Homo sapiens: one gene and its partners. The protein of the gene in region 1 purifies or fractionates together with the protein of each later gene. This does not show direct contact. Each region holds a gene or a part of one and is shown on either strand. Other genes may lie near its edges. The genes, in order: TRPV5, ATF1, NUP35 and RNF138.

What was found.
Region 2: the proteins of TRPV5 (region 1) and ATF1 purify together in Homo sapiens (affinity purification with mass spectrometry; 3 studies listed by BioGRID and IntAct, with this or other methods). This does not show direct contact.
Region 3: the proteins of TRPV5 (region 1) and NUP35 purify together in Homo sapiens (affinity purification with mass spectrometry; 3 studies listed by BioGRID and IntAct, with this or other methods). This does not show direct contact.
Region 4: the proteins of TRPV5 (region 1) and RNF138 purify together in Homo sapiens (affinity purification with mass spectrometry; 3 studies listed by BioGRID and IntAct, with this or other methods). This does not show direct contact.

The regions. Positions count from the first base shown.
Region 1 is NC_000007.14:142,909,354-142,917,224, forward strand, and holds part of TRPV5 (transient receptor potential cation channel subfamily V member 5), read right to left. Parts: intron 6,216-7,871; coding exon 6,129-6,215; intron 6,031-6,128; coding exon 5,954-6,030; intron 5,694-5,953; coding exon 5,528-5,693; intron 5,354-5,527; coding exon 5,287-5,353; intron 3,398-5,286; coding exon 3,129-3,397; intron 244-3,128; coding exon 137-243; intron 1-136. UniProt on the Homo sapiens protein: Constitutively active calcium selective cation channel thought to be involved in Ca(2+) reabsorption in kidney and intestine. Required for normal Ca(2+) reabsorption in the kidney distal convoluted tubules.
Region 2 is NC_000012.12:50,794,512-50,802,382, forward strand, and holds part of ATF1 (cyclic AMP-dependent transcription factor ATF-1), read left to right. Parts: intron 1-1,386; exon of another isoform or gene 1,387-1,397; coding exon 1,398-1,498; intron 1,499-7,871.
Region 3 is NC_000002.12:183,147,730-183,155,600, forward strand, and holds part of NUP35 (nucleoporin NUP35), read left to right. Parts: intron 1-3,778; coding exon 3,779-3,920; intron 3,921-7,871. UniProt on the Homo sapiens protein: Functions as a component of the nuclear pore complex (NPC).
Region 4 is NC_000018.10:32,086,772-32,095,137, forward strand, and holds the start of RNF138 (E3 ubiquitin-protein ligase RNF138), read left to right. Parts: upstream 1-5,102; 5' UTR 5,103-5,464; intron 5,465-5,916; exon of another isoform or gene 5,917-5,928; 5' UTR 5,929-6,005; coding exon 6,006-6,115; intron 6,116-7,732; exon of another isoform or gene 7,733-7,835; intron 7,836-8,366. UniProt on the Homo sapiens protein: E3 ubiquitin-protein ligase involved in DNA damage response by promoting DNA resection and homologous recombination.

The DNA of each region.
Region 1 (7,871 bases):
TCTTCGTACCCCTCCACTTCAGCTCCAGCCCCCTCCCCTAGACAGGCTAATGTAGGCTCCAGGACGCCTGTCGGTCACCCTTGCTTCCGTGGCCTTATACACATCTGCAGTTTTGCATGTGCACACCATCACTCACCGCAGGAACCAGCGGTCCCCCAGCCCGAATTCGCACCCACAGATCCCGGAGCGAGGCCACAGGCAGCGAGGCAGCTTCCGCTCCAGCATCACTGTGGTGGCCACGACCTGGAAGGAGGCAGGAGATACAGGAAGAACTCTGAAAGAGCCATGAGGTTCAAAGAGGCACTGAGGCCACTGATAAAGGGAACCAAAGGCAATCTGTGAGATAGGACACTAGAGGTCAGTGGTGAGAACAGCCACCTATTCACCCCACAGCCTGTGCCAGGCACCATGCAACCAGCTTCACTCATCAAGAAATGAGAGAGGATTTTTTGTGAGTGTTTTGAATAAAATAGTTGCCCTTACATTACTATTCACTCATGGAGAATGAGTCACTCCAAACTAATCTCAACTTCTTTTTCATATAAAAGCCACAGACCAATTATCTCGATTTAAATAAAATGATTAAAGAGAATCTCTACGATCTTGGGGATGAATTGATACTGTTACTGTTCAGGGAATTTTCAGCAAATTAAATATCCACATCTTAGGAAGGAAAAGGGTTGATTAATGACTGCAAGTTGGCAGGGAAATTTCTGGTAGCAAGTCCACCACACGTTCTGTCCTTTGCTCAGCCCTCATTAATTACTTAGATGAAACATGGGAAACAAGCTTATCAAATATGCCTGTGACACAAAACTGGGAGGGATATGTAATATGTGGGGCAACAGAAGCAATATAAAATTATCTCGCTAGATTGGAATGCTGGTGTAAAATCATTAACAAGAAATTTAAGTAAACCAAATCTAAGGTCCTATATTTACATTTAGGAAGCTTAGATAAGTGAGTCATAGAACAAAGGTGTGGGAGTGCTAGCTGATCACAAGCTTAATAAGGGCCATTTGTATATTTGCTAAAAGACCTGACTCAGCTTTAGGTACCCTTAGCATTATGTCCAAGTAAGGAAAGGCATAGTCCCGCTTTGTACCGCATTGCCCTAATCATACTGGGGACTATTCTAGTTTCAAAGAAACCATGATCTATTAGAGCATGGACAAAAGGGTGCAATCAGAATAGATCAGAACCAGGAAGGCTTCCTAATTGAAGGAGTGCAATCTTCAAAATAGCAAATTCTTCACCTCATGTTTTTCTACTCCCTATCTTCCTCATTACTCCACACTTCTTTCAGTTTCTTAATTGCACCAAGTTCCCTCCTAGCTCAGGACTTCCAGTCATTCTGTGCTCTTACCCTGGATAGCTGTTCTTCTTTGCCTTGAAAGAAATGTTTATTGTTCCTCCTGAGCCATCATGCAGCCCCGTCCTTCCTCGGGTAACAGCACCCATTTTTCATTTAGGGAATTGCTCCCTCATCACTTTTAGTGCATTGGTTTGAGTGGACTGGGCTTCACACAGTTGTGCTTAATTAATCTATTTTCCCCCAAACCTCCCCTCCACCACCATCACCAACACCTCCACTATCTAGTCCTTGGTCTTTCCTTAGATTCAACGATGTGCCTATGACCCGAATGTGTTCCCATGAGATGGAACATGGAAGGAATTGGCAGGGGGAAAGATGTTCTTTTAAAGCCTGCAGTTTTGCCTGGCACCAGGAGCCTCACAGAATACAACGTGAGTGGGGCCCTCGGAGCTGCGTGTTGCATTGCACATCCTCATTCTTTTTGGAGTTTGGAGCTTCTAGAAATGATCTCACAAACACGATGGGAGAGCTTGCCTTAGAAGAGAGGTCAAAAGAGAGCCGAACAGAGGAATGGATGTAATGTATAAGATGTGGATCTGCATTCTGGCCAGATACCTCTAAAGTTAGTTTAATTCTCTAAACTTCCCATTTATGAGGACTAACACATCCTCTTCCCCCTGTTTAAAAATCTGCAAGTCTGTTTGAGTTTGGTTTTCTGTCCCTGTAGCCAAGAGTCCTAATTGCTACTAACCTTGACCTTCATCCTTTTCCCTCCTTCCTTTTAACTACCTAGTTCTTGCTCACCTTTGGGTTCTCATCTTAAATGTTGCTCCCTCAGGAAAGCATGTCTTCACTTCCCAGTCCGATTCCTCTGTTGTATCCTCCTCTTAGCACCTTACATTCTCTATAGCACTTTTGCTGCTGTAATTTTACAGCTTTTTGTGAAGTCATTCACTTCATGCCCGTCTTTCCAACTAAACCGTCAGCTCCATGAGGGCACATATGGTGTCTGTTGTGTTTATGCTCATGTCCCTAGCTCCTAGGCATTTGTCAACACATAGCAGGGTCTAAATGATCATCATTAAATGAATGAAAAGTCTAAGGGAAAAATGATGGCTATATTCAAATATTTGAATGGTGCTTATATGGAAGAATGTGTTCTGTGATATATGAGAGGGAAAGACTGGCGCCAAAGAATGAAATTTTAAGAAGATAGGTTTTAGCTCAATGCGACATAAATGTCTAATAACAAAATCTTTAAAAATATGGGAAAACTCCCTTCCTCCCAACCTCTACCTGAATTTGCAAGATAATAAGGTACTAATCAGCATTAGAGAAGATATTGAATGACATTCTGACCAATAAATGATTATTATGTTAAGTAGGAGGTCAACTTGAGGGCCATTGAGGGTCACTTCTAATTCTAATATTTATCAGTCTATGGTGATATAAAGAAAAGATCATAGAGAAACAGGGATTTACAGAAGCAAATAGAAGATAAGATCCAAATTGAAAACTGGAATATACCAGAACAAGGTCACTTCTAGTTCCCACTGGACTCAAGGATCAATCCTAGGTCTACTTTTCCCCTGTGAGCAACAACCCCACCTCTTGCCACTATCGTCCATTTAATCCTCCTTCTGTCCCTTCCATTTATCCACATGTACCTCAGGTTTACACAAACCTCTTCTGAGGTGACAGCCTCACTGGGTTTTTCTGTGACTCTTTTAAGAATGATCCACCATAACATTTTCCACTTTGATTTTTCTCTCCAACCCCTGCTTCTTAGCAAGACTAACACAAATAAACTCACCTGGGCCCTCCAGAGCTCATCCCTCTCCTGGGCCACCCTCCAGTGGGTGTCGCCCATCATGGCGATGAACAAGTTGAGCATGAGCAGTGTGGCAATGATGGTGAAGGCGAAGTTGACAATGCTGAACATGAAGGGCAAGTCCACGTCGTAGTTGGCAGGTGCATCAATAACAGTGAGAAAAAGCTCAAAGGTGGTGAACAGTGCCATGGGGTAGTCATAGAATTGCCCCAGACTGGTTGGGTCCTCTGTCTGGAAAATGATATAGAACGCTGCTCCGCCCAGGAAGAGGACATGGAGATGGGATAATGGAGTTATCACAATAAGCATGGACATGGTTAGCACTTATTCTATCTCTGATCTATCTATCTATCTATCTATCTATCTATCTATCTATCTATCTAAATACACTTGCACACATGCACAGATAATTACATACTAATAAATGTAGTTTCCTGTGGAACTGTCTAACCCTAAGATGTCCTATGATTAAGTTCACCACTCTGGGTAATGGTCATGGTAATAGTCATTTAACAACAACAAAATTGTGTGTGCAGCGTGTGTGTTTGTATGGATAATGGATAATAGGTCACCTAACTGGTTTTTGCATTTTAGAAAACCAAATACTTAAAAGGCAAGTTATTACAAGAATGTATGGAATCCTCAACAATTTTTAAAGAACAGAACACATGAACAGGCTAAAAGAAGAGCCCCTTTTTTAATCTTGATGGCCTCTAGATAACCCTCCATCACTCTGACCTTCCCTGAGTGAACCTGAACCAACATAGGAAACGGATTCCTGCTTAGGGTGGAGCCTACTGGATAGCAGTGAGCGTAAGGGAACTTCAGGACAGCGCTGGACTGCTTGAAAGCCTCCTCACTGCATAGGGAGCTGAAGCACATTCTGAGAGCAGAAACAGGGTCTATGACAAAGCATTGCCTCCTTATTTATTTAAGAGAAAAGCAAGTGCAATGGCCAAGAAGTGAACATTTAGAGAGTTCTGGATAGAGGACATCTACAGAAAGCCACTCTGGGACCATCACCTCATTTTGTAATCTGTGTTATGTATAGATGTAGATGGCCAGGGAGTGGGAGGAAAGGGTACATAAGGGCTTGGGGTGGAAAACTCCAAACAGGCAGAACGCCATGGTTTTACTCTTTCACATTTCAGATTTTGGTGGGGGTTTTGTTGTTGTTGTTTTGTTTTGTTTGTTTTTTGTTTTGGTCTGTTGTTTTGTGGGAATCCCCATTGAACGGGAAATCCCTGAGGACAGTAATAGAGTCCTCTGCACTGAGTCATTGCTTTTTAGAGATGGGGGGATCCTTCTAGTGCCTCTTCTTGTCTAATAGATGGTCAGTTGCAGACACTGAGGACTGAATTTGAGCTACTGGCCTTTTGCTTTTCAGACCTGGGCCTTCCTCTTTCTGCCCCTCCCTAAGGACTTTCTTCTGCTCCTCCACCCACCCTCTCCTTCCCTCTGGCTGTTTCCACCTGCCTGTGTTTTCCTGCTGTGCCGTTCCTTTCTTTTGCTCCCTGGCACTTTCACTGGCTGTGCCTTGACTGGGTGCCTGTGTGTTCCTGTTCTCCCAGTCTCTCTTCACAACTCTTCTTTTTTGTTTTCTCTGTCATCTTCAAACTGTCCAAGCTGTTTTTCTGCACCTCCTTTTTCTAATTCTTTCATATTTTTCTCAGCTTTAAATGACCACATATAGAAAAAAAGCAAGTTATATGTTGTTGAGTGCTTTAGGTTTCCTCTTCTGAATTGTAAACATAGGAGAGTTAAGCATGGCACTATCTCTGTTTGTCCACATGGTTTTCTGAGATCCATGACTGGCCAGTCTTTCCTGTTTAATGCCCTGTTCTCACCAAAAGTCTTTTCCTGTCTCTCCTTTAAAGATCTTGCAAGGCAGTTAGTGAACATAAATCTTATTGGCCCTGAACACATGGCTTTACGTTCCAGGCCAACCTGAGTGGCCCCTGGTCCTATAAATATGGGTGTGCTTTTAGACTTACCTTCCAACAGGAAAAAACAAAACAAAAAACAAACAAAAAAAAAGAAAGCAAAATGAAGTGCAAATGAGAACTGAGAGCAAGAATGAGAGTGAACTTTCTGGAGAACTAGATCTGCTGATCTAGTAGAGGAGTGTATGGTGCCTTACCGGAGGCAAATCCCAAGATGACCACAGCCATCAGCCAGCAGAAACGCATTAGGTCTCCAAAAATCATCTGCAGGAAACAGAAGGAAGAAAGGGTGGGATGATTCCTTTTCCACTGCTTTTGAGCAGCTAACGCTAACAGATCAAGAGGCCCCCATAGTTCTACCAGCTCCATTCTACCTCCATCCCTCTGTCTGTGAAGGTCTTGTGCCTGAGGCGGAGGAAGCTTCGGGAAAGCACTGACCTTCTGGATCATGATGGTGAAGGGACCCAGCATCTGGAATCCTCGAGTGAAATACATGACACTGCACCAGCCCAGCACCAGGGCAAAGGACATGGGCACCACCTCCCCATTGGTGTTGGTGAGCCGCATCACCATGGTCACCAGCACCAGGGAGGCATAGGTGATGCTGGGGGAGCAGAAAGCAGAGAGTGAGAGACAAGCTGGAACTATTTTAGGTCCCTACAGCATAGTGGTGACCGGGGTGGTATCCACACACTCAGGCTTAGTCTTTACACCTAAAACGCACATACAGTTACACCTACAAGTCCACTGGAGAGAAGTCCTTGGAGTGAGAGTGACCTGAGGCCTAGAACTCAGAGAGTGAGCTGGAGACAGGAAAAGATTCTGGTAAGGAAAGGCAGGGGGCTGGAATGAGGGGATACTCACATGATGACATGGAATGGCCCCCCAAGAATCGTCTTTCCAAAATAGCGAGAGGCACCAACCCTGAAGATGTCTGGAATCTGGGGAGAGGACGGCAAAGCAAAAATACAATGTGGACTGCGGTACAGTCTGGGCCTTAGATGGGATGGGATTAGCCTGGACCCCGCCTGCCCCTCACCTCTAGGAGCAGGATGATCACAGCCCCAACGATGCTCACCAGCTCCCCCACCAGCCTGATGATATCTTCACGTGTCTCATAGGCCTCCTATGTGGGGAAATTCAGAAGAAGTGCTTTCTGATGGGCAGAGTCAAATCCTTTTGTGCAAATGATCGAAAGCTGCTAAAGCCCATCCAAAATAAAGGAAACTCCCCTTCCCACCAGCATCACCCCACCCCCATTGTACTTGCCATTGTGGGTAACTCTGTGACCAGGACAGGAGTCTATGTATCCAAGGTTTAATAGACGTCACATATGCTAATGTCTTGAGCTACCATCTAGCAAAATCGCCTTTTCTATAGATGCTGTAAGCAGAAATTTATGATGTATATACTGAGCAGCTGAGAACACATTTCAGCGCATCAAGTGAGCTAACAGGAAGAGGTATTAGTGGCTTGGGATGGTTTCAGCTATGTGGAAAGTCCACCTTTTCCAACCTCATCATGGCTTCTAGTGGGAAGAATACACTGTAAACATATCACAGAATTCAGGTTCCCTCACGGATCCGGAATCTACTACCTCTAGTGAGACCTTGAACCATTCATGGAAAATCTCTGAACTTGAGTTTTCTCATCTGTAAAATGGAGGCTACAGTGCTTACCTCCCAGAGTCATTGTGAAGCTTACATTAATGATATATTTACATGAACTTTATAAATCATAAATCACTATAGATATATTCACTGTGGTTTTATGATGATTTGACATTACAGAAAAGAGCAGAGAAGGGGCTAGAGACACTATGAGGAAGGGTCCCTGCCTATCCTGAGCAGTAGTTGTAGAAGGTATAGTCCAAGGGTCAAGGTGGAATGAAGACCACCCTACTTCAATGCATGTTACTTCACGGTGAAACTTATGCAATATCACAGATGTAGTGCTAGAATCCTACATTAATTATCCTTATGTTTTTGAAGTTATGAGCTCACTTGAAAACATAATAAAAACTGTATATCTTCTTTCTACAAAACTGTGTTCCCATGTAGACAATTCCCACATGATATTGCACAAATAATTTCAACACATGCAAGCAGCCTTTTGACTTTTGGGAGCTCTGTTGTCCAAGGTCACATCTCCAAATAGTGCACCCAAGAAAGGAGTTGAGAGTCCCCTGGGGCCAGCAGGAAAGCTGATGATTTGAGCCAGGGAGAATGTGGTCCCTAGTTAGCATAAGGAACGGCAATTATCCCTGCTCTGCTAATCAGCTGGAACCTGTAAGCATCTCTCCAGACTCTACTGCAGCAGCACACTCACCTGCCCGGTGAGAGGCAGTGCTTTTAACACAGGGAACCAAGAGAGACTAGGAGAGAAGCTTCTGTCTGTGTGTCTGGAGAACTCTGTGGTCTAACAACCTGTGACCAGACATCAGTCAACACTTTTTTTTTTCTTTTTTGGCTTAAAAAATGGTATGCTCTGTAAACTTTTCTGACATTTATCTCTTGAGAAACTGGTAAATTTTATTTTATCATATAATAGCAAATTTCTTTTTTTACTTGCTTCCAAAGAATTTCAGAGTTTTTGTTTTGTTTTGTTCTATTTTTTTGTGTGTCTGGTTTTTTTTTGTGCGTTTTTTTTGTTTTGTTTTGTTTTGTTTTTTTGTCCTCAGCTCTAGCAGCTATCTTTGAATTCCTTCTCTTCTCTCCTGAAATTCAGTTCACGGACTGTGTTCTTTTTCTTTATCTTAATGTTTCTATAGCATCTGTCTTTT
Region 2 (7,871 bases), on another chromosome or scaffold:
CCAAGATCGTGCCACTGCACTCCAGCCTGGGCGACACAGTGATACTCCATCTCAAAAAAAAAAAAATTCAGATGAAGTCGGATATCACAATCTAACTTTGGACAAATGTTGGAAAGTTTTAATACGCTTAAAAAATTGAGGCCAGACATGGTGACCCATACCTGTAATCCCAGCACTTTGGGAGGCCTGCTTGAGCCCAGGAGTTTGACACCAGCCAGGGTAACATAATGAGACCCTGTCAGAATAAAAAAAAATGAATTAGCTGGGCATGGTGGTGTGCACCTGTAATCCTAGCTACTCAGGAGGCTCAGGCTGGAAGATTGCTTGAGCCCAGGAAGGCGACGCTACAGTGAGCTGTCATTGCACCACTGCACTTCAGCCTGGGTGACAGAGTGAGACCCTGTCTCAAAAATAAAAAAATTAAAAATATTTAAAAAAAAATTGAAAACAACTTGTTTTCTCAATTGTAAAATATTGCTATAACTTGCATATTATATTGATGTAGTTTATAAAAATTAACATTGTATGCATGCCAAGTGTTGCATGTATTAACTTGTGAAATGAGATAAAATTGAATCATACAGATTTTAAAATGGCATATATTTATACCTGCCATTGCCAGTGACCTCCACCTTGCTAAATCGAATGGTCTGTTCTCAGTCTTTATTTTATCTCAGCTTGTAAACAGCATTGGACATGGTTGATCATTCTTTTCTCCTCAGTATGCTGTCTTCACTAGTTTTCCATGGACAGCTCAATCATTTGGTTCTCTTCTTTACTGGTGACTCCTTAGTCTCATTTGCTGGTTCCTCCTCTTCATCCAGTCTCTTAGTGTTCCTGAGGTTAGTCCTCAGTCCTCTTCTATTTACCCCTATGAGCTCATCCAGTCTCATGGCTTTAAGGACTCTAAAAAGCTAGACCTCCAAAATTTATGTATCTAGCCCAGACCTCTTCCCAGACCTACAGGCTTGTATATTTAATATTCGTCTCAATGTCAGCAGTTGAATATATAACAGGTTTTTCAAACTTAGCATGTCAGGTAGATTAGTAATAAAACAACACTTTTAAGTAATGTGCATCAGTGTAGAAATAGGGTGGAGAATGACATCAGAGCCTGGTCTTTTTAACTCTGGTAAAATAGTACTGCTTCATTTGGGGGACAGACTTTATTCTCAGCTCTGGGCCTGCTATATTTGATATTCCTTTAATAGGTTGGGCTCCTGGAATAAACTTTCTCATTTTTCCTTTTCCTTTTGTTCCTTTCTTTTAGACTTTAGATTTAATGTACAAATGAATTGGAGTGGCAGGAGACAGATCATTTTTTTCTAAAAGTAAAAATTCAGTTGTTTCTTTTCCCACCTGCATTGTTCATCATGTTAATGCCAGTTCTTTTTTAGGTATCATCTTTATCAGAAAGTGAGGAGTCCCAGGACTCATCCGACAGCATAGGCTCCTCACAGAAAGCCCACGGGATCCTAGCACGGCGCCCATCTTACAGGTGAGTACTCTCTTGTATGAAGCCCTGCATGTTATGATAGTACCAAATGAGTTCAAGAGGTGCTGTGCAAAGTACACTAAAGAAGTTAGCACGCGTCAGTGTTAAGAATGAAATTGGTTGGCCCTCGCCTATAATCCCAACCCTTTCGGAGGCCGAGGTAGGATTGCTTGAGCCCAGGAGTTCAAGACCAGCCTGGGCAACATGGCAAGACCCTGTCTCTTCAAAAAATACAAACCTTAGCTGGACATAGTGGCGCACGCCTGTAGTCCCATCTACTTAGAGGCTAAGGCGGGAAGATGGCTTGAGCCCAGGAGTTTGAAGTTACAATGATCTGTGATTGTGTCACTGTGCTCCAGCCTGGGTGATAGAGCAAGATCCTGTCTCCAAGAAAAAATGAAATTGGACCTTTGGCCGGATGCAGTGGCTTATGCCTGTAATCCCAGCACTTTGGGAGGCTGAGGCGGGCAGATCACCTGAGGTTAGGAGTTTGAGACCAGCCTGGCCAACATGGTGAAACCCCGTCTCTAATAAAAATAGAAAAATTAGCCGGGTGTGGTAGTGCACACCTGTAATCCCAGCTACTTGGGAGGCTGAGGCAGGAGAATCACTTGAACCTGGGAGGCGGAGGTTGCAGTGAGCCGAGATTGTGCCACTGCACTGCAGCCTGGGCAACAGAGCAAGACTCTGTCTCAAAAAAAAAAAAAAATGTAAATTTAATCTTTATCTTACACCATTACACAAATCAACACCAAATGGATAAGAGACCTAAATGTTAAGACCTGAAACCATAAAAATCCTAGAAGAGAACATAGGCGATAAGCTCTTCGACATTGACCTTGGCAATGATTTTTTGGATATCACACCAAAAGCTTAGGCTACAAAAAAATAAATAAATGGGACTACGTCAAACTAAAAAACGTGTCTGTGTAGCAAAGGAAACAAAGCAACAAAATGAAAAGGCAACTTACGGACTGGGAAAAAATTATTTGCAAACCACTTATCTGATAAGGGGTTAATACCCGTAACTGAAGACAAAATGAGAGAACCTGAGGATACAGCTCTGAGTAGATTACCTAGAATGGAACACAGAAAGACAAAGTTAAGATAGAACACAGAATGAGAAGGTCCAGTACACAACATACATAGATAAAAGGAGAGAAGAGGGAAGGGCACTTCCAGCTTCTAGTCTCTCCAGGAGAGAAAATGATAATGACTGCAATTTCCAGGATATGAATTTCTCAGCATAAGAAAGCAAGGTCCCAAACAAGATAAATTAATAGAAACCTACATCTAGGTGTATGTTGTAAAGTAAAACTGGAGAACACCAAGGATAAACCTGAGATCTTAAAAGCTAAAAGCTTCCAAGTGAAAAGACCAATTACCTAGAAAGGAAGGACCAGTAAGCTGACAACAGATTTTTGAAGTACAGTATAAGACAATGAACTAAAATCCTTATTTTTATCTTTAAATTATTACATGTTTTTTTGAGACGGAGGTCTCACCCTGTTGCCTGGGCTGGAGTGCAGTGGTGTGATCACAGCTCACTGCAGCCTCAACCTCCTGGGGTCAGCTCCTCAGCCTCCTGAGTACCTGGGACTATAGGCATATGCCATGATGCCCACCTAATTTTTTTTAATTTTTGGTAGAGATAGAGTCCCACTATGTTGACCAGGCTGGTGTCAAACTCTTGGGCTCAAGTGATCCTCCCACCTCAGCCTCCCAAAGTGTTGCTATTACAGGCATGAGCCACTGTACTCAGGCTCCAATATTTAAATTCAAAGAGAAAGTAACTTTTGACCTGGAATTCTGTGCCTACTGAACAGTCTTTCAAAAATGACGGTGAAATAATAATCATTTTCAAACTGATTTAAGAAACTACTTAAGGAGGCTGGGTACAGTGGCTCACGCCTGTAATCCCAGCACTTTGGGAGGCCGAGGCGGGTGGATCACTTGAGGTCAGGAGTTCGAAACGAGCCTGGCCAACATGGAGAAACCCTATCTCTACTAAAAATAAAAAAATTAGGTAGGCATGGTGGCACATGCGTGTAGTCCCAGCTTGAACCCAGGGGGCGGAGGCTGCAGTGAGCTGAGATCGTGCCACTGCACTCCAGCCTGGGTGACAGAGTGAGACTCCATCTCTAAAAAAAAAGAAAAAAGAAACTACTTAAGTGTATACTTCAGGAAGAAGAAAATGAAAGGAATATAAATGTGAGAAAGTATGGTGAACAAAGACAATTCATTTCAGTTAGCATTGGCTTTTTAGAACAATAGTAATAATGATTAATTTGGGTAGTTTCATGGTTGTTGTTTTTTTTTTGAGATGGAGTCTCGCTCTGTCATCCAGGCTGGAGTGCAGTGGAGTAATCTCGGCTCACTGCAAGCTCCGCCTCCTGGGTTCATGCCATTCTCCTGCCTCAGTCTTCCGAGTAGCTGGGACTACAGGCGCCCGCCACCACACCTGGCTAATTTTTTGTATTTTTTAGTAGAGACGGGGTTTCACTGTGTTAGCCATGATGGTCTCAATCTCCTGACCTCGTGATCTGCCCACCTTGGCCTCCCAAAGTGCTGGGATTACAGGCGTGAGTCACCATGCCCAGCCTGAACCTGAGATTTCTTTATTAAGTAGGGGTCTCTCAGGAAGGCTATAACATCTGAAAAGAAACTTCTCAAAGTTAAGCTTTCTGGATTGCCACAGATTAGTATAAATCAAATACGAATTCACTCAAAAATCATCAAACGTGCAAGGACATAAACCACGTAAGTGAGAATTGGCAGAAACAATACAGTCAACTCAATAAATGCTGGGAAAAAAAGTATTTGATTAAATCCAGCACCTCATACATTTCTACCAAAAATGAATAAAAATGGGCTTCCCTAGCATATGTAGACTTTTAGAACTTAACTATGTATAGGACAGATCACCATTGCCCAAATTCTAGACTGGCCACTACCTGGTGCACATGTGTAATAGATATGAATAGCATTGCAAAGACTTTGGAAACTGAACTGACATTGGAACCACAACCCACAGAAGGCTGATCAGAACTTGTGGCCTGGACACAACCAGATTGATACCTTCTAAAACAAGAATATAGTCTAGGTCTGTGGCTCATGCCTGTAATCCCAGCACTTTGGGAGGCTGAGGTGGGAGGACTACTTGAGTCCAGGAATTTAAGACCAATCTGTGTAACATAAGGAGATCCTGTCTCTACAAAAAATACAAAAATTAGCTAGGTATGGTGGTGTGTACCTGTAGTCCCAGTTACTCAGGAGGCTGAGGGCAGAGGATCACTTGAGCCCAGGAGGTTGATGCTTCAGTGAGCCATGATTGTGCCATGCACTCCAACCTGAGTGACAGAACGAGTCCCTGTCCCAAATACACACATGCACATGCAACAAGAATATAAAACATTTTTTATTAAACAAGACCCAGAGTCTGATAGCATAATATTCAAAGAGTCCAAAATTACTTGGTATCAAAGAACAAGGAAAAATCTCAACTTGCACGGGAAAAGACTGTTGACAGAAGCCAACTCCTAGATGATACAAATGTTGGAATTATATGACAAGGACTTTAAAGAAGCTATTATTAAACTGTTCCAACAAGTAAGTGAATTTTCTTGAAATGAAAGGTATAAACTCTCGGCCAAAAATAGAGCATATAAAGAGAATAAAATAGAGATTTCAGAGCTAAGAAACACAGTAACAGAGATAAAACCTCATTGGATGGGTTCAATAGTAGAATGGAAATGAGAGAAAAAACGATCAACTTTGAAGATTATTCAATGGATATTATCCAATCTGAACATAGAAAAGAGATTGGAAAATTATCTAATTCTCAGCGACCTGTGCGACAATAATTAAAGATCTAAGATTTATGTCATTAGAGTCTCAGAAAGAGAGGAAAAAAGTATAGCGCAGAAAAAATACTTGAAAAAATAATGGCTGAAAAATTACCAAATTTGGTGAAAGACGTAAACCTACAGGTTCAAAAACCTCAGCAAACTCTAAACAGGATAAACACAAATAAATCATTGCCCAGACTTACCATAATCAAACTGCTGAAAGCTAAAGTTAAAGAAATCTTGTGAGTAGCCAGAGAATAATGGCACATTACTTACAAGAGAACATTGTGAATGACTACAGAGTGCTCATCAGAAACTATGGAGGTGAGAAGATAATGGAATAGCATTTTTAAAGTGCTAAAAGAAAAAAGAATTATCTCCTGGGTCTTGGCACCCAAAATTCTATGTCTACTGAAAACATCCTTCAGACTTGGAGGTCAAATAAATATTCTCATCAAGGGAAACTAAGGGAAATAATTGCCAGCAGACCTGCTGTAAAACAACTGCTAAGAAAATTCTTAAGACGAAAGAAAGTTAAGGAATGAAGAAACAGCAACAGAAATATCTGGGCAAATATAATGGACAGTTCCTCTCCTATTGAATTCTTTAAAATAGGGGTCCCCAAACCCCAGGCCGTGGATTGGTACCTGTCTGTGGCCTATTAGGAACCAGGCTGCACAGCAGGAGGTGAGCAGCGGGTGAGCGAGCCTTAGCACCCAAGCTCTGCCTCCTGTCAAATCAGTGGCATATTAGATTCTCATAGGAATGTGAACCGTGTTGTGACCATGCGAGGGATCTAGGTTGCATGCTCTTCATGAGAATCTAATATCTGATGATCTGAGATGGAACAGTTTCATCCTGAAACCATCCCCTGACTTCCCTATCCATGGAAAAATTGTCTTCCACGAAACTGGTCCCTGGTGCCAAAAGGGTTGGGAACTGCTGCTTTAAAATATATTTGATGGCTGGGCGCGGTGGCTCATGCCTGTAATCCCAGCACTTTGGGAGGCTGAGGCAGGTAGATCACCTGAGGTCAGGAGTTTGAGACCAGCCTGACCAACATAGCAAAACCCCGTCTCTATTACAAAGATAAAAACTTAGCTGGGCATGGTGGCAGGCGCCTGTAATCCCAGCTACTCGGGAGGCTGAGGCAGGAGAATCACTTGAACCTGGGAGGTTGCAGTGAGCCGAGATCATGCCACTGCACTCCAGCCTGGGCGACAGAGCGAGACTCTGTTTCAATCAATCCATCAATCAATTTGATGGCTGAAAACAAATTATGAAATTCTGATGGGGTTTTTAATGTGTGCAGAGGTAATATATAAGACATCTACAACATAAAGAGGGAAATATAAACAGTTCTAATATGGTGGTAAGGTTTCTACATTCCACCTGAAGTGGTAAAATAGTGATTCTATGTAGACTATAAAAAGCTAGGTATCTATATACCCCTAGAGCAACTACTAAAAAAAAACTACACAAAAAGATTTAGTCAAATATACAGTTGCTTAAAAATTAAATTTTGAAAAGTCTTCAAATAATCCAAAATAATGCAGGTGCAGGAACACAGAAGAATTTTAAAAACAGAATAAACAGAAAGCAAATAATAAAGTGGAAGATCAGCCAATACTGAAGATGGCCTACACTCACCAATTAAAAGGCAATTGTAAAACTAGACCAATATCCTTCATGAATATAGACACAAAAAATCCTCGACAACATATTAGCAAACCAAATCCAACAACATGTAAAAGGTAGTATATGCCATGACCAAACAGGATTTATCCCTGAAATGCAAAATTGGTTTAATAATTGAAAATCAATTAATGTAATACATCATATTAATAGAATCAAAACAAAAAACATATGATCATCGCAAGACACAGAAAAAGCATTTGACAAAAATCCAGTTACCATTTCATGATAAAACTGCTCAACAAATACATAGAAGGCTGCTTCCTCAACCTAATAAAAAGGGTCTACGAAAAACCCACAACTAACATCCTAATAAGAAAATAATGTGGATATCCCCTCTCACCACTTCTAAACATTGCACTCAGGGAATTAGTCAATAAATTAAATAAAAGGCATCCTGATTGGAAAGGACTAAGTAAAACACTTTGTACATGACAGTATCTTATATATACAAAATCCTAAAGAATTATTAAAATAGAACTAATCAACAAGTTCCAGCAAGGTTGTAGGATATAAGATCAATATAACAAAAATCAACTGTATTTCCATATACTAGCAATGACTAATCCAAAAATGAAACTTAAAAACAATTCTATTTACAATAACAAAGTATAAAAGGTTTAAAATTAAATTTATAAATTTAAATTATACTTAGATATGAATTTAACAAAAGAAACAGAACACATATACTGGAGGCCAGGCACAGTGGCTCATGCCTGTAATCCCAACACTTTGGGAGGCCGAGGCAGGCGATCACCTGAGGTCAGGAGTTTGAGACCTGCCCGGCCAACATGGTGAAACCCCATCTCTTCTAAAAATACAAAAATTAGCCA
Region 3 (7,871 bases), on another chromosome or scaffold:
TTTGATAGGAATTGTGTTGAATTCCTTTGGGCAATATGGTCATTTTAATGATGCTGATTCTTCTAATCTATGAGCGTGGAATGTTTTTCCATTTGTGTCATCTGCGATTTCTTTCATCAGTGCTTTGTAGTTCTCCTTGTAGAGATTTTTCACCTCCTGGGTTAGATGTATTCCTAGGTATTTTAATTTTTTTTTTTTTGATATGTGGCTATTGTAAATGGGATTACATTTTTGATTTGGTTCTCAGCTTGAATGTTATTGGTGTATAGAAATGCTACTGATTTTTGTGAATACTTTTTTAAGCACTCGCTTATGAGTGAGCATATGTGATGTTTGTCTTTCTGTGCCTGGGTTGTTTCACTGAAGATACTGACTTCCAGTTCCATCCATGTTGCTGCAAAATTGATTCCTTTCCTTTAAATGGCTGAATAATATTCCGTTGTATATATACACCACATTTTCTTTATTCATTCACCCATTGTTGAACCCTTAGTTGATTCCATATCTTTGCTATTGTGAATAGTGCTGTGATAAACTTATGAGTCCAGCTATCTTTTTGTTATATTATTTCTTTTCGTTTGGTTAGATACCCAGTAAGAGAAATTGTTGGATTGAATGGTAGTTCTATTTTTAGTTCTTTGAGAAATCTCCATATGGCTTTCTATAGAGGTTGTACTAATTTACGTTCTCACCAACAGTGTATGAGTTCTCTTTTCTCTGCATCCTCGCCAGCATCTGTTTGTTTTTTTGTTTAACAATAGCCATTCTGACTAGGGTAAGGTGATGATGTAGTTTTGAATTGCATTTCTCTGATGATTTGTGATGTTGAGCATTTTTTCATATACCTCTTAGCCATTTGTATGTCTTTTGAAAAATGTCTATTCATGTTCTTTGCCCACTTCTTTAACAGGTTATTTTTATCAAATATATCTATAGATATATTTCGAGATGGAGTCTTAAACTCTGTCATTTAGGTTGGAGTGCAGTGGCATGATCTTGGCTCACTGTAACCTCCACCTCCCAGGCTCCAGTGATCCTTCCATCTCAGCCTCTCAAATAGCTGGGACCACAGGCACACACCACTACGCCCAGCTAATTTTTTGTATTTTTAGTAGAGATAAGGTTTTGCCATGTTGCCCAGGCTGGTCCTGAACTCCTAACTTGGCCTCCCAAAGCGCTGGGATTACAGTCACGAGCCACAGTGCAAAGCCAAGCTTTTTATCACAGTAGCTTTTCCCCCCACCTTCTATAGATAATCTTTTTTGTTTCTTAAGAACATACTTGGAGAAATCCATGTGACTATAAACACTTTGGAATGAGTTAGGATGGTTTTCAACTCATTTGGGAATTAAGGATAAATGGCAAGTCAGGAGATACATACAATAGTTAGAATATGTTAAGTAGCCTCTAGAAAATCAATAAAAATGGAGCATGACTCATGCGCATTGACCTGTAGAACAGTGGTTCTCAAATGTCTTAGTTTTGTAGTTTTTACCTTGTTTATACTCTTAAAAATTAAAGAGCTTTTGTTTATATAGATTATAGCTATCAATATTTACTGCATTCAAAATTAAAACAAAATTTAAAATTTAAGTATTAACTCATTTAAAAATAAAGCTATTTCATATAAACATAATCTTTTTTGAAGTGAACAGTAACTATTTTCTAAAGAAAAAAAGATTTGCAGGAAGAGTGACATTGTTTTTGTTTTAAAAATCTTTTTAGTGTCTGGCTTAATAAAATACCTGTGAATTCTCATGAATCTGCTTCTCTTTTCAACCTGAGTCTGTTGAATCACATGAAGTTGCCTCTGGAAAACTCCACTGTACACTAATAAGAGACTGAGAAAAAGGCAAATGAAACTTCATGTTTTTGTGAAAATAATTTTGAGTTGGCTGATCTCATGAGAGAGTCCTGGGGGAGCCAAGAATCTCCAGACCACACTTGTAGTACTGCCACAGGAAATAAACATGTTAACTAGATTACTGCCTCAGAGCTCATGCTTTGGATTCCGATTGCCTGGATTGGAATTCCAACTAACCTTCTGGATGTTATTTAATATTATCCTGTTTCCTAATTTGTTAAATGGACTAATTGGACCTTTTGTAGGATTGTTAGAATTAAATAAAATTACACTCGTAAAGTGTAATAATCACTTAATAAAATGCTACCTTTTTTTTAATTTTTTTATTTTTTTGAGACAGAGTCTCTCTGTCACCCAGGGTGTAATGCAGTGGTGCTATCTCAGCTCACTGCAACCTCCGCCTCCCGGGTTCAAGCGATTCTCCTGCCTCAGCCTTGAGAGGAGCTGGGATTACAGGCATGCACCACCACACCTGGCTAATTTTTGTGTTTTTAGTAGAGATGGGGTTTCACCATGTTGGCCAAGCCAGTCACAAACTCCTGACGTCATGATCCGCTCGCCTTGGCCTCCCAAAGTGTTGGGATGACAGGTGTGAGCCACTGGCCTGGCCCTTAAAATGCTACCTTTTACTATCAAAGTTTTAGTCCTGTTATGTCACGCTTGCTCAGATTTTTCTGTTGGTTTTCTACCTCGCTTAGAGCTTTAGCTTTTACAGTGGCTTTATAAGGTTTTTCTTCATGATCCGGCATATTGCTGCCTCTCTGCTCGCATCTCCTTGTTCTCATCTCACATCCCCCTCACTGTGCAAACAGTGGCCTTCTTGCGTTCATCTAAGACCAATCATGTCTTTCCTCATGGCCTTTGTTTTATTATTTTCTCCACAAAATGTTCACTTCTTCAAATATTGTTTTGCTTCCCTTGTCCTTCAGGTTTTTGCTTTAATGCACCTCAGTGAAATCCTTTTTCATTTAACCCACCCACACAAATTGGCCCTGTCTCCCTTCTCTGCTTTATTTTTTTTTCTCTGTAGGATTTTTAGTTTTGTAGCACATTAAGTATTTACTTATTTGTCTCTCTTTCGCTAGAATGTAGGCTCCAATAGGGATGGATTTTTTGTTTTTATTTGTCTAATGTGTTTACTGCTATACCTTCAATACCTAGGTTGATGCTTGGTGCATATTTAAGTGCTGATAAAATATGTTTTGAATGAGTAAATCATTATTGCTACTGTGAAGATGAAAGGGAAATAGTCTTTGCTTCTCTCAAATGTATAGCCTTAATTGGACATTGCTTCTGATATAAAATGAACTTTATAAAGTGTTTAGCATGGCATGTTGGACACACAGAAGTACTCAATTGGTGGCTGTTACTGAAGAATAAGAAATAAAAGGATAAGACATTTTAGAAAGAAATGACCTGAATAAAAGAAAATTGCATTCACATTTTAAGGGGTAAGGTAGATATTGTTTAGTGCATACTGGAAAAGTAAGGTTGCAACTGTATAGCTGAGGCCAAGGCATTCGGATTTTGTTCTGTGGGTAATACATTTTTACATGTTCTTAAGGCAGAGGTGCTGTGATGAAAGTGGTAGGTTTGGAAGATGAAACCAACAGAAGTCTTTGAGGTTGCCTGGGATATCCTTCTGGTGTCAGCTTAACCAGACATGCTTAATAAAACATTTAGATAATTTATCATACATAATAAAACATTTGCAGAATTATAAACTATGCCCAATTATTACTTCCTCTAATTGTATGGTAGCATGAAATTGCTATTTGACCACAGTTGTATGTTTTGAACTGTTTATGTAATTGCCAACTTTATTAGACTTTATCATTTAAAACTAAGATTTTTGATTTAGAATCAATCGAGGTGTTTACACTGGCAACTAACTTGCTAAATATACTAATATAGGGCAAAGTATGTTTAGTCCAGCAAGTATCGGTCAGCCACGAAAGACGACATTATCTCCTGCCCAGTTGGATCCTTTTTATACTCAAGGAGATTCTTTGACTTCAGAAGATCACCTCGATGACTCTTGGGTGACTGTATTTGGGTAAGGTTTGCAGACCATTTGCCTTTTAAAAACCCCACCCTAACATTTTATAATGAATATAATCAAACATACAGTAAAATGGAAAGAAGTGCATAGCAAACACCCATATTACTACCACCTAGGTTCTATGGTTAACAGTTTGCTACATTTGCTTTGTCATTTATCCATCTATCAATTCATTCTTTTTGTTGGTACATTTCATAATAAGTTGTAGACATCAATACATATTACCCTGACACTTGAGCATGCATGTCATTAACTAGAGTTTGATATTTGTTTGTAGTTTTTTAAATCATTTGTCTGTTTATTTCTTCCCAAATTATTTTCTCTCAAGCATATTTACTAGATGGAACACAGTTGTCCCTTTAGACTTAGGGAACTCCTTCCCCTTTTTCTAGTGACTGGTTCTCTACATCTAGTGGAATTCACCAGTTTTGAATTAACAGAATGAACATTTACAAACACACACACACACACACACACACACACACACACACACACACACAATGTCACAGGGTTGATACTTTCTGGTCCACAAAGTATTGAATATTAATAGAAACAGTATGACAGTCCTTGTTACATTTTTGAATAGATTTTTAGGTCCAAAAAAAACTTTAAAATGCCTTTTTTTAAAAAAAATGCTTTTTTATTTCCATAGGTTTTTGGGGAACAGGTGGTATTTGGTTACATGAGTAAGTTCTTTACATGATTCGTGAGACTTTGGGGCACCCATCTCCTGAGCAGTAGGCACTGAACCCAATTTGTAGTCTTTATCCGTCACCCCTTTCCCACCCTTTCCCCCGAGTCCCCAAAGTCCATTGCATCATTCTTATGCTTTTGCATCATCATAGCTTAGCTCCCACTTATGAGTGAGAACATATGATGTTTGGTTTTCCATTCCTAAGTTACTTCACTTAGAATAAGTGAGTTACTTTACTTAGAATAATTTGCAGTCCCATTCAGGTTGCTGCAAATGCCATTAATTAATTCCTTTTTACTGCTGAGTATTCCATTTTGTATGTATATATATCTATCACAGTAAAACTCCTTAGAGATCATATTGTATAATGTTTTATTTTACAGGTGAGGAAACTGAGGTGTAGGCAGATTAAGTGATTTATTCAGCCGTTCACATCTAGTTATTATTAGCAAAGCTCCAGCAAAAACTTGGGTCTTTTGATATTCAAGCTGATATTTACACTCTACAAAAATATAAAGTTTGTTTCTGAAAGTATGATTTGCCATACTGTATTAGTCCCTATTCATACTGATAAAGACATATCCGAGACTGGAAAGAAAAAGAGGTTTAATTGGACTTAGGGTTCCATGGCTGGACAGGCCTCAGAATCATGGTGGGAGGTGAAAGGCACTTCTTACATGACGGTGTCAAGAGAAAATGAGGAAGAAGCAAAAGCGGAAGCCCCTGATAAACCCATCAGATCTCGTGAGACTTATTCATTATCATGAGAATAGCACAGGAAAGACTGGCCCCCATGAATCAATTACCTCTCCCTGGGTTCCTCCCACAACACATGGGAATTCCGGGAGATATAATTTGAGTTGAGATGTGGGTGGAGACACAGCCAAACCATTTCATTTCATCCTTGGCCCCTCTAAATCTCATGTCCTCACGTTTCAAAACCAATCATGGTTTCCCAACACACCCCTGAAAGTCTTATTTCAGCATTAACCCAAAAGTCCACAGTCCCAAGTCTCATCTGAGTTAAGGCAAGTCCCTTCCACCTATGAGCCTGTAAAATCAAAAGCAAGATAGTTATTTCCTGGATACAGTGGGGTTATAGGAATTGGGTAAATACAGCCATTCCAAATGGGAGAAATTGGCCAAAACAGAGGGGTTATAGGCCCCATGCAAGTTCAAAATCCAGAGGGGCAGTCAAATTTTAAAGCTCCAAAATGATCTCCTTTGACTTCCTGGTCTCACATCCAGGTCACGCTGATGCAAGAGGTGGGTTCCCATGGTCTTGGGCAGCTCCACCCCTGTGGCTTTGCAGGGTACAGCCTCCCTCCTGGCTGTTTTCCCGTGCTGGCATTGCGTGTATGGGTTTTCCAGGCACAGAGTGCAAGCTGTCAGTGGATCTACCATTCTGGGGACTGGAGGATGGTGGCCCTCTTCTCACAGCCCCACTAGGCAGTGCCCTAGTAGGGACCCTGTGTGGGAGCTTTGACCCCACAGTTCCCTTCCGCACTGCCCTAGCGGAGGTTCTCCATGAGGGCCCCACCCCTGCAGCACAATTTTGCCTGGGCATCCAGGTATTTCCATACATCTTCTGAAATCTAGGTGAAGGTTCCCAAACCTCAATTCTTGACTTCTGTGCACCCACAGGCTCAATACCATGTGGAAGCTGCCAAGGCTTGGGGCTTCCACTCTCTGAAGCCACAGCCCAGGCTCTACATTGTCCCCTTTCAGCCACGGCTGCAGGGGCTGGGATACAGGGCACCAAGTCCCTAGGCTGCACACAGCACAGGGACCCTGGGCCTGGACCACAAAACCGCTTTTTCCTCCTGGGCCTCCAGGCCTATGATGGGATTGGCTGTCTTGAAGGGCTCTGACATGCCCTAGAGACATTTTCCCCATGCTCTTGGGCATTAACATTAGGCTCCTTTCTAGCTATGCAAATTTCTGCAGCTAGCTTGAATTTCTCCTCAGAAAATGAGTTTTCCTTTTCTACTGCGTTGTCAGGCTGCAAATTTTCTGAACTTTTATGCTGTGTTTCCCCTTTAAAATGGAAGGCTTTTAATAGCACTCAAGTCACCTTTTGAATGCTTTGCTGCTTAGAAATTTCTTCCACCAGATACCTTAAATCATCTCTTTCAAGTTCAAAGTTCCACAAATCTCTAGGGTGGGGCAAAATGCCACCAGTCTCTTTGCTAAAACATAACAAGAGTCACCTTTGCTCCAGTCGCCAACAAGTTCCTCATCTCCATCTGAGACCACCTCAGCTTGGAACTTATTGTTCATATCACTATCAGCATTTTTGTCAAAGCCATTCAACAAGTCTCTGGGAGGTTCCAAACTTCCCACATTTTCTTCTGAGCTTTCCAAACTGTTCCAACCTCTGCCTATTAGCCAGTTCCAATGTCACTTCCACATTTTTGGGTATCTTTTCAGCAATGCCCCACTCTACTGATACCAATTACTGTATTAGTCCATTTTCATGCTGCTGATAAAGACATACCTGAGACAGGGAAGAAAAAGAGGTTTAATTGGACTTACAGTTCCACATGGCTGGGGAGGCCTCAGAATCATGGCGGGAGGCAAAAGGTACTTACATAGTGACATCAAGAGAAAATGAGGAAGCAAAAGCGGAAGCCCCTGATAAACGCGTCAGATCTTGTGAGACTTACTCACTATCATGAGAATAGCATAGGAAAGACCAGCCACCATGATTCAATTACCTCTCTCAGGTCCCTCTCACAACACATGGGAATTCTGGGAGATACCATTCAAGTTGAGATTTGGTTGGAGACACAGCTGAACTGTATCACATGCTGATACTGGAATGTATCTATTATATATTTTTTGGGATTAAAAAACATAAAAATAACACATGAGCTCCTTGAAGGAAGAAAGGTGCATAGTAAATGTTTAGTGGATTTTATGTATTCAATTTATTTAAAATTAAAAATTCAAAAGGTATGTAAGAATGTACAATGAAGTTTTCCCTTTTGCTTTTGTCCCAAGCTAGTTTTCCTCCTCTTTAAGGCAGTGATTGCCATCTGTTTTTTGTGTATGTTTCCAGAGAGATTTTATGTGTTATTGATTTCTATTTGGGTAAAAAGCGGGTCATTGCATTCCGTTGTTCTCTAGAAAGTCCATACTCAGTCCTATATCCATAGCAATTGGGCTGGTGTGTTTTTTTTCTTCTTCTTCTTTTACATTTACATTTTTATAGTCTCTCATAAAATGGCTTTTTTTTTTTTTTGAGACAA
Region 4 (8,366 bases), on another chromosome or scaffold:
GCCTCCCAAAGTGTTGGGATTTCAGGTATGAGCCACCATGCCTGGCCTCTAAAATGTTTTTGTAGAGACAGGGTCCCACTATGTTGTCCAGGCTGGTCTCAAATTCCTGACCTCAAGCTATCCTTGTACCTCAGCCTCCCAAAGTGCTGGAATTACAGGAATGAGCCACCATGCCTGGCCTTGTCTTTGATCATCAAAGAAAAGTGCTTGCTGATGCCCCTCATAATAATTCCCTTCACAGCCTTTTGGTCATAACTGAGTCACATACACACTCATGCTTAAACCACTGGTAAGAGGAAACGGCCAATCTAGGGAAGGCTTGGAAGCTCTGCACCTCTTCCCCCATACCTTACCCTATGCGTCTCGTCATCTGTATCTTTTGCAATATCCTTTATAATATACCAGTAATCGTGTTTCTCTGAGTTCTGTGTGCTGCTTCAGCTTCAAGTTGCGGTTCCCAGAGCCCACTCTTTCGGTTTCATTAATTTGCTGGAGCAATATCCTTTATAATACACCAGTAATCATGTTTCTCTGAGTTCTGTGCACTGCTCCAGCAAATTAATGAAACCCAAAGAGTGGGCTATGGGAACCGCAACTTGAAGCTGGTTGGTCGGAAGTTCTGGAGGCCCGGACTTGTAAGTGGTGTCTGGGGGTATGGAAGCCAGTCTTGGGAACTGGGCCCCCAACCTGTGGGATCTGACACTGTCTCTGGGTAGGTAGGAACTGAATTAGAGGACACCCATTTGCTGTCTGCTGCTTGGTGCATGGGGAAAACCCCCCACATATTTGTTCACAGAAGTCTTCTTCTGTGTTGATTGTTGTGGTGCGTGAGAGTAAAGGTAAAATATGGTTAGAGTTTTCCCTACACAATTGGTTATTGTGGAGGTTAAAGAACTCCATCATGGATGTTAACATGCTAGGTTGACTTCTGATTAACCCCAGTTCCAGGAATGCCCCTAAGAGTTCTTCTTTATGATTCCTTGTGTAAAAAGAGCATGGTCTTAATCATAAATCCTGCCCTTAAGCAAATTATAGGCTGTAATGCACATAGTATTCTTGTCTTTCCCTCAGGGGTGAACTTTAATTTTCCTGCACATTATGTATACCCTTTCCTTATGGTCTGCAGGATAACAATACGAAGATCCACCTGTCTTGCTGCTGCCCAAGACCACACTTCCATCCACAAGTTCCCCAGTAAATCACCTGCTACCAGCAAACTGGATTTGTTTGCCTCTTCTTTGGATTTTTGGCTTCTTCTGCATTTGAGAGTCACTTTGCATATATAGCCCTTTCATGGAACAGTTGTGTATGTACATAGTCAAGAGTAATATTTAGCTAATATTTGCTAAAATAAAAATATTTAGCAACTGGAACCAAATTGGCACTGGTCATTCAGGACAGACTACTCACCAGTCAGGATGGACAAGGCTGAAAAAGACTAGGAAAATGGTACTGGTACAAACCAGCTGAGTGTCAACACTGCACATGGTAGCAATTTACAAAGATACCAAAGGGTAGAGAGTGAAACATGAGCCTCTCTCCTGTTCCATCCTCCAGCTTCCCAGTTCACTTCTTCAAAGGCAATCACTTTTACCAGCAAAACAGGATTTTGAAGGTTTGTAGTAAGATAAAGCCAGGCCTTGTCAAGAAATCAGTATTCTAAATTATTTTATTTTTCTCTTTTGCATATCAAGATCCATCGAACTTGACTGGAGAGTTTTATTTACTTATTTTGATTTTTTATTTTTTGAGACAGAGTCCCGCTCTGTCACCCAGGCTGGAGAGCAGTGGTGCCATCTCAGCTCACTGCAACTTCTGCCTCCTGGGTTCAAGCCACTCTTCTGCCTCAGCCTCTGGAGTAGCTGGGACTATAGGCATGCATACCATGCCCGGTTAATTTTTGTATTTTAGTAGAGACAGGTTTCGCCATGTTGTCCAGGCTGGTCACGAACTCCTGACCTCAAGTGATCTGCCTGCCTCGGCCTCCCAGAGTGCTGGGATTAGGAGCATGATCCACCACGCCTGGTCTTGACTGGAGAGTTTTAGAGCACCCAATCAGCAAGAAGTGGCAAGGGGAAAAGTCCATTCCTTCTAATCCAAGAGACTGTAGGAGAAGAAACAAAGTAGGGGCTTCATTCTGGGGGGGAAAGGTGGTTTAGATGGGTTGGAGTGTGTGCCCTGGAAGCACATGGCCTTACAGGCTGTTCAGAACCAGAGGGAGAACCACAAAGGATGTCATAGACAGTAGTTGTGTTGAGAGCCAGAGAGCCTGCTAAGGAGCCTGCCATGTTGAGGGTTAAGGAATTGGAAGGTGATCGTGGCAGGAATCAGAAGGTTTTACAGTGTTGGTGAAGCTAGGACATATCTCAGGGCCTTGGCCCAGCTGAGAGACAGGTCCGAGCAATCTTCATCAGCAAGTTTCAGCAAGAGAACACCCAGGACACATTACATCTCAAGGAGCAGAGAAAATTAGTCTGGCTAAAGAAAATCCGGCAAAAATGCAAAAGAGAACTTGCAGATTTCAGGAGCCAGATTCCCCTATAGTGCCTTGAGTTCATGTCAGCTACCCATCATCCTCCCTTCCCTTCTCCCAAATGCCATTCTGAGGGAAGCCCACTGAGAGGGACTGACTGGTTTAACCCAAACTTAAAGGAACTGTTTAAATTATTGCAGCACAGTTTACCAAATCGGTCTACATCTAGGGTTTTCCCTTCTAATGACCAAAGGCTGAGGACATTTTATTTACGCAGCTGAATGTATTTTGAGTAAATCTATGACATTCTTATAAAAATATCAAGTAGCTTTTCACCAGAAATGTTGCCAAGAAAGAAGATTGTGTCATTGGTAATTGCAACTTATTTTTTTAAGCTTAACTTTCCAAGGGTATCTATATTTTTCTTATGTCCAAGTTTTTGCTGGATTTCCACATATTGCCAGCTATATGCTTACGTGTATACCGAATGACTTATTAGAATATATGGGGGAGTGATACAAATATGTTTGGATTAGACATAAGTAAAGCTGCCGTTGCAGAGAAAGAATGAAGCAAATAAAATTAGGGTCACAAAATTAATGTTATGGTTAGATATTCCCAATGAATAATGGGAAACACTATTATACAGAAAATACACCTTACTTCCTAAATGGTCAGAATGAATGAAATGAGTGGAATTATCAAAAAAGTAAAATGTAGGCCAGGCACAGTGGCTCAGGCCTGTAATTCCAGCACTTTGGGAGGCCAAGGTGGGCGGATCGCTGGAGGCCAGGAGTTCGAGACTAGCCTGGCCAACATGGCAAAACCCTGTCTCTACTAAAAATGCAAAAATTAGTTTGGCATGGTGGTGCATGCCTGTAATCTCAGCTACTTGGGAGGCTGAGGCAGGAGAGTTGCTTCAACCTGGAAGGCGCAGGTTGAAGTGAGCTGAGATCATTCCACTGCACCCCAGCCTGGGTGACAGAGTGAGATTCTGTCTCAAAAGAAAAAAGAAAAAAAGTGAGTTTTCTTCTCTGGGCTGTTAAAAATTTGAACTCAAAGAACCATTTTATAAGTGAATGTGAAAAGCACCTGAACTACTGCTATTAGCTGCCCCTCTCGTCACGTGCTCTTCCTCCTTCCAGGAAATCTGAAGCTAGTATTAGCTTTCTTGTCTTGCTTCCACTGCGCTTGCTGCTAAGGAGGAAAAGCAACAAAAATACAAAATATAGTTTGGTAGAGGGAATTAGCTATTCATTGGACAAATTATTATTATTCTAGGAATCAATGCTTTTGAGATGTACATTAAAACCCATTTCCTCCATAAAGTTTTCTGTTAACTCTATATATTTCTAATCATTCCATTTCCTATCCTCATTATAGCCATCGTTTAATGCAAAATTTAATACTTTGGCAAATACCATTTTTTCTCTCTCATTCTGATAGATATGTAATAATGTAAACAGGTTGAGAGCAAAGTTCATGACATCTGCATAACACCTAACAATGCCAATGTCAACATAGACAATAAATGGCAGAATTGATTTAAATAGTCCCTTAAATGGCTTCTGTTTATTCATTTAGACCATGGGGGAGGGTTTTAACAAAGGATGGTAATAAAACCTTTCTTTTCTCTGAAGCTAATTGTAGATGCTGTATAATGTTCCAGATTTTCCTTAGCTTCTTTCACGTCATTGTGGATCCCATCTTATCGATTTATCCTTTTTTTGTTCTTCTTTTTTTTTGAGAGTCTCACTCTGTCGCCAGGGCTGGAGTGCAGCGGCGCGATCGCGGCTCACTGCAACCTCTGCCTCCCGGGTACAAGCGATTCTCGTGCCTCAGCCTCCCGAGTACCTGGGATTACAGGCTCCCACCACCATGTCCGGTTAATTTTTGTATTTTTAGTAGAGATGGGATTTCATCACGTTGGCCAGGCTGGTCTTGAACTCCTGACCTCAAGTGATCCAACCGCCTTCGCTTACCAAAGGGCTGGGATTACAGGTGTGAGCCACCGCGCCCGGCCTTTTTTCTTTCTTTTTTTTTTTTTTTTTTGAGACGGAATCTCACTCTGTTACGCAGGTTGGACCATCTTATAGATTATCAATTGTACAGATAATTGCACTCCGGCCTGGGAGACAGAGTGAGTACCTGTCTCAAAAAATAAAATAAAATAAAATAAAATTAAAAAAAACACTTAAATTAGTGAATAACCTTGGTGAAAAGCCACGTCCATGCTTCTACGGCATTTCTCTTCAAAGCTAAAAAAAAAAAGAAAAAATCAAAAATCAACCCAAAGGTGTAGTAGAAGACTGCATCTGCGACCGTATTTAAGCATCGGTCATGCTGTTAAAGGAGAAAGTGGACATCCTCTCAAGGAAACTTTAATCCTGCCCCCAAAGGATTAAAATCCCGTAACAAATATTTGTTTATAACACATCTTGACAAGATCAAAACATTCTGGTAGGGCAAATAGTAAAGACTAAATCTTGAACATTGACGAAAACTTCCTGAAAGGCCCAATGTATTTGACAGGAGAGGTAACTGGGGTCCCGGGCCTAGCGAGGCGGGGCGGGGAGGCGCAGGTGTCACCGCGGGCGCCCAGCTGCTTACGTCACAACCCGCGGAAGGCGCCGTGCGCCGGTTGCTATACAGGCCGCACTTCACACCCCGTGCCTCCCCGCCTCTCCTGGCTCCTCCGCCCAGATCCCCGGCGCTCCCGCGTTCGGTGACGGCCGGGTAGGCTGTAGGCAGCGCAATGCCAAGACAGAGCTGCTGGCGGCGGCGGGCGAATCTCCCTGCACCATGAGCCTCGGCTCCGGCCCCGTTAGGGGCCGATAAGCACAGCGCACGCCGCCCTCCATTTGCCCCGGGGCCTCGGCTGCGAAGATAGCGGCGGCCGGACAGGAAGCTCGAGGAAAGCGCTGGGCCGGGTCTCTACGAACACGTGAAGGAAAAGCAGCTCCGTCCACAACGCCGCTTCGGGGCTCCTAGGTGAGAGTCTCCCCGGCGGAAGCGTGGAGGGGCCGGGGTGCCGGGAAGCGGGGCGGGGAGGAAGCCGCGGACACGGGCTGGGCACTCGGGGCTCGGGGTCGGGGTGAGTAGAGGCGGAAAAGCAGTGAAAAGGGAGGCCTTGGGCGAAGACGGGGGCTGAGGGCGGGGCGCGAGCCCGCGCCTGGAGCCCGGTGAGGGCGTGGCCTAGAGCGTGAGGCCGCGTCCTGGGGCGGGGTGAGGGGCGAGCGGGGCGGGCCCACGGCATGCTGCGAGCCCAGCCTCCCGCCAAGCACCGTCCCCCATCCAGCCCCCTGTGGGAGGAGCCGTGGGAGGGGTCGCCTCTTGCCCGGCGCGTGCGGCAGTAGCGTCTCTGCGTTCGGCCCCGCCCTACCCAGGGCCCCGCCCCCTTCCTGGCGCGCGCTGTATCCTGATGCGATCCCCCTCCCCCCTCCGGGTTCATGTAGGGAGTCGGGCCCCGGGCCGCCACCGTCACCTCGGCCGCTGCCGCTGTCGCCATCGCCTTGTTTCCCCATCCCCCGCCATGGCCGAGGACCTCTCTGCGGCCACGTCCTACACCGAAGATGATTTCTACTGCCCCGTCTGTCAGGAGGTGCTCAAAACGCCCGTGCGGACCACGGCCTGTCAGCACGTGTGAGTAGACGCCCCCTCCCCCTCGCGGAGCCGGGTTGTCGCTTAGGCCCGGCCTCCGGCCCGGGACCCCGGGCTGCCGCCTGGCGGGAACCGAGCCCGCCGCGGCCTGCCCGAGCGTCGCTGCCCCGCGAGGTCCCGTTCCCCGCCCCTCAGAGTCCCGGGGCGGCCTTTTCCTCAGCCTCGGGGCCCGCTCCCCGCGTCCAGCCCCCTCAGCCCAAGCTCCCGCTCTCCCGCTCTCCCGCTCTCCCGCTCTCCCGCTCTCCCTGGCTTTCGCGCCCCCGGGGCAGTGGCCAGGCCGTTCCCTGCGGCGTCTTCAGGCCCCGGAGGCCCCTGTCGTCTCCGCCAGGCCCGGGAGGAATTGCAGGGATCTTGGAGCCTTTTTGTTTCTTAGCAACCCGGGTGAAGGCTGGGGTGTCGAGTGTCAAAAGCGGCCGGCGGTGCTCGCGCGGGCCCGCTCGCCCCGCGACCTGCCCTGCTTTCAAGTTTCCTCTTTCAGAACCTTGGTCCGTCCCCTCGGTCCAAGAGCTCTTCTGTAACTTCCCCTCAACCCTGCTTCACAGAACACCCTCGAGAGCGTTTTGTTTCGTTTCCAGTCCACTATGTGTTAGAGGGATCTAGAATGAGTTTTCTTCTCTGGTCTCTTAAAACTGACAGGATTTTCGGGCATTGAAATGAGCGTTCCCCTTTGTTTTACCTTTCTGCTTACTTATTACTTGATTAATACAAGGGTGGAGAGGAGAAAGGAAGACTTCTGTTATGAGGAATGAGCCGAAATTGAGATGCTACCCAGGGTGGGGGAGAACACAAAGGGGTTGGGTGAGATAACGCATGCGTTTGATTGGCAGGCATATTTACAAGAACTTTGATAAAATTTTATGGACAGCTAGGGTGTGAGTAAGGGTTGGAAAGAGCCCTTGTTGAGAAGGTGTATAGCCCTTCTGACAGACCTGACTGATGATCAGAGTCCCCGGGGAACTTTTTAAGTAAACATACCAATTCCCAGGCTCCATTTCAAACTTAACAAAAGAATGTTCGGGCAGGTGGGGCCTGGAAATCTTTATTTATTTATTTATTGTATTTTTTTTTAGTAGAGACGGGGTTTCACCGTGTTAGCAAGGATGGTCTCGATCTCCTGACCTCGTGATCCTCCCGCCTCGGCCTCCCAAAGTGCTGGGATTAAAGGCGTGAGCCACCGCGCCCCGCCCGGAAATCTTTATTTTTAAAAAACACACTCAGGCTTGAAAGTTACGTGTGTTTGCAAACAACTGAAAAGAATTGACCAACCTTCTAAATGTATTTCATTCTCCTTCGACTTTTTTTTCTTTTTTTTTTGAGGTGAGGTTCTATAATTTTGTAAAGGATGGATTGAATTTTTGGTTCTTAATTGCAAATGCCCTTACTGTGGCTGTTTTCTTGATACCAACTCTTCTCATTTTTTCCCCAATCTTAACTGCACTGTCTACTTTATTTCTATTTTGTGCTGGTTGTGTGAGCCAAGAGTGTGTGGATTTTCATGATAGAAATTATGCCAGTTACGCTTTTGCTCTTTAAGGGAGATGAATGACATCTTGTTATTTTGTGCAACAAATGCAGATTCTTAGGGAAATGTTTTGAGGGATCCTTTTGCGGTTCATAGTGTGATGATTGAGTGTTCACAGGCATGTGTGAGATATGCCATCCTCAAACCTTGTTACAGGGTCAGCACATTACCCATCTGACATGAAAAAAAAAACGTTTGGAGGTGTCTAGGGCACAATATAGATCTTCCACCTTTAATCTAGCATAACTTGGTCCCTTTCCAATATTTAAAAAAAATTTAAGTGCTGTGTTGGCATTGGGTAGATAAAAGGGAGGGAGGAGAGCAAGGTGAGAGGAAGTTGTAATAGCTGCTAACTATATATATATATATAAAGCAGGTCTTTTTTGGATAGAATCATTCTAATTATCCTTTGGGTCATTGACCTAATGGGCCTCATTGTAGTTTTTAGCACTCCCCAAAATTCCGTGTAGATTGCTCTAGTCCGCTTCCCTTGTGGGACATTTTAAATCAAGGTTTATAATTTGATTTGACCTCAAGACTGTGGAAAATGTTGGAGATGATTGTTTTTAATTCAGGACCTTTCTCAAATCAACTTATTGTACGTAGACAGTTCTGCCTGAACAATGAATTAAAAGAATAGGCAGAGGGAGAAAAAAAGTTTAATTTGGAAGAGGTGGTAATGGAGGAACAGGATTTTAATCAGTTGGAAGG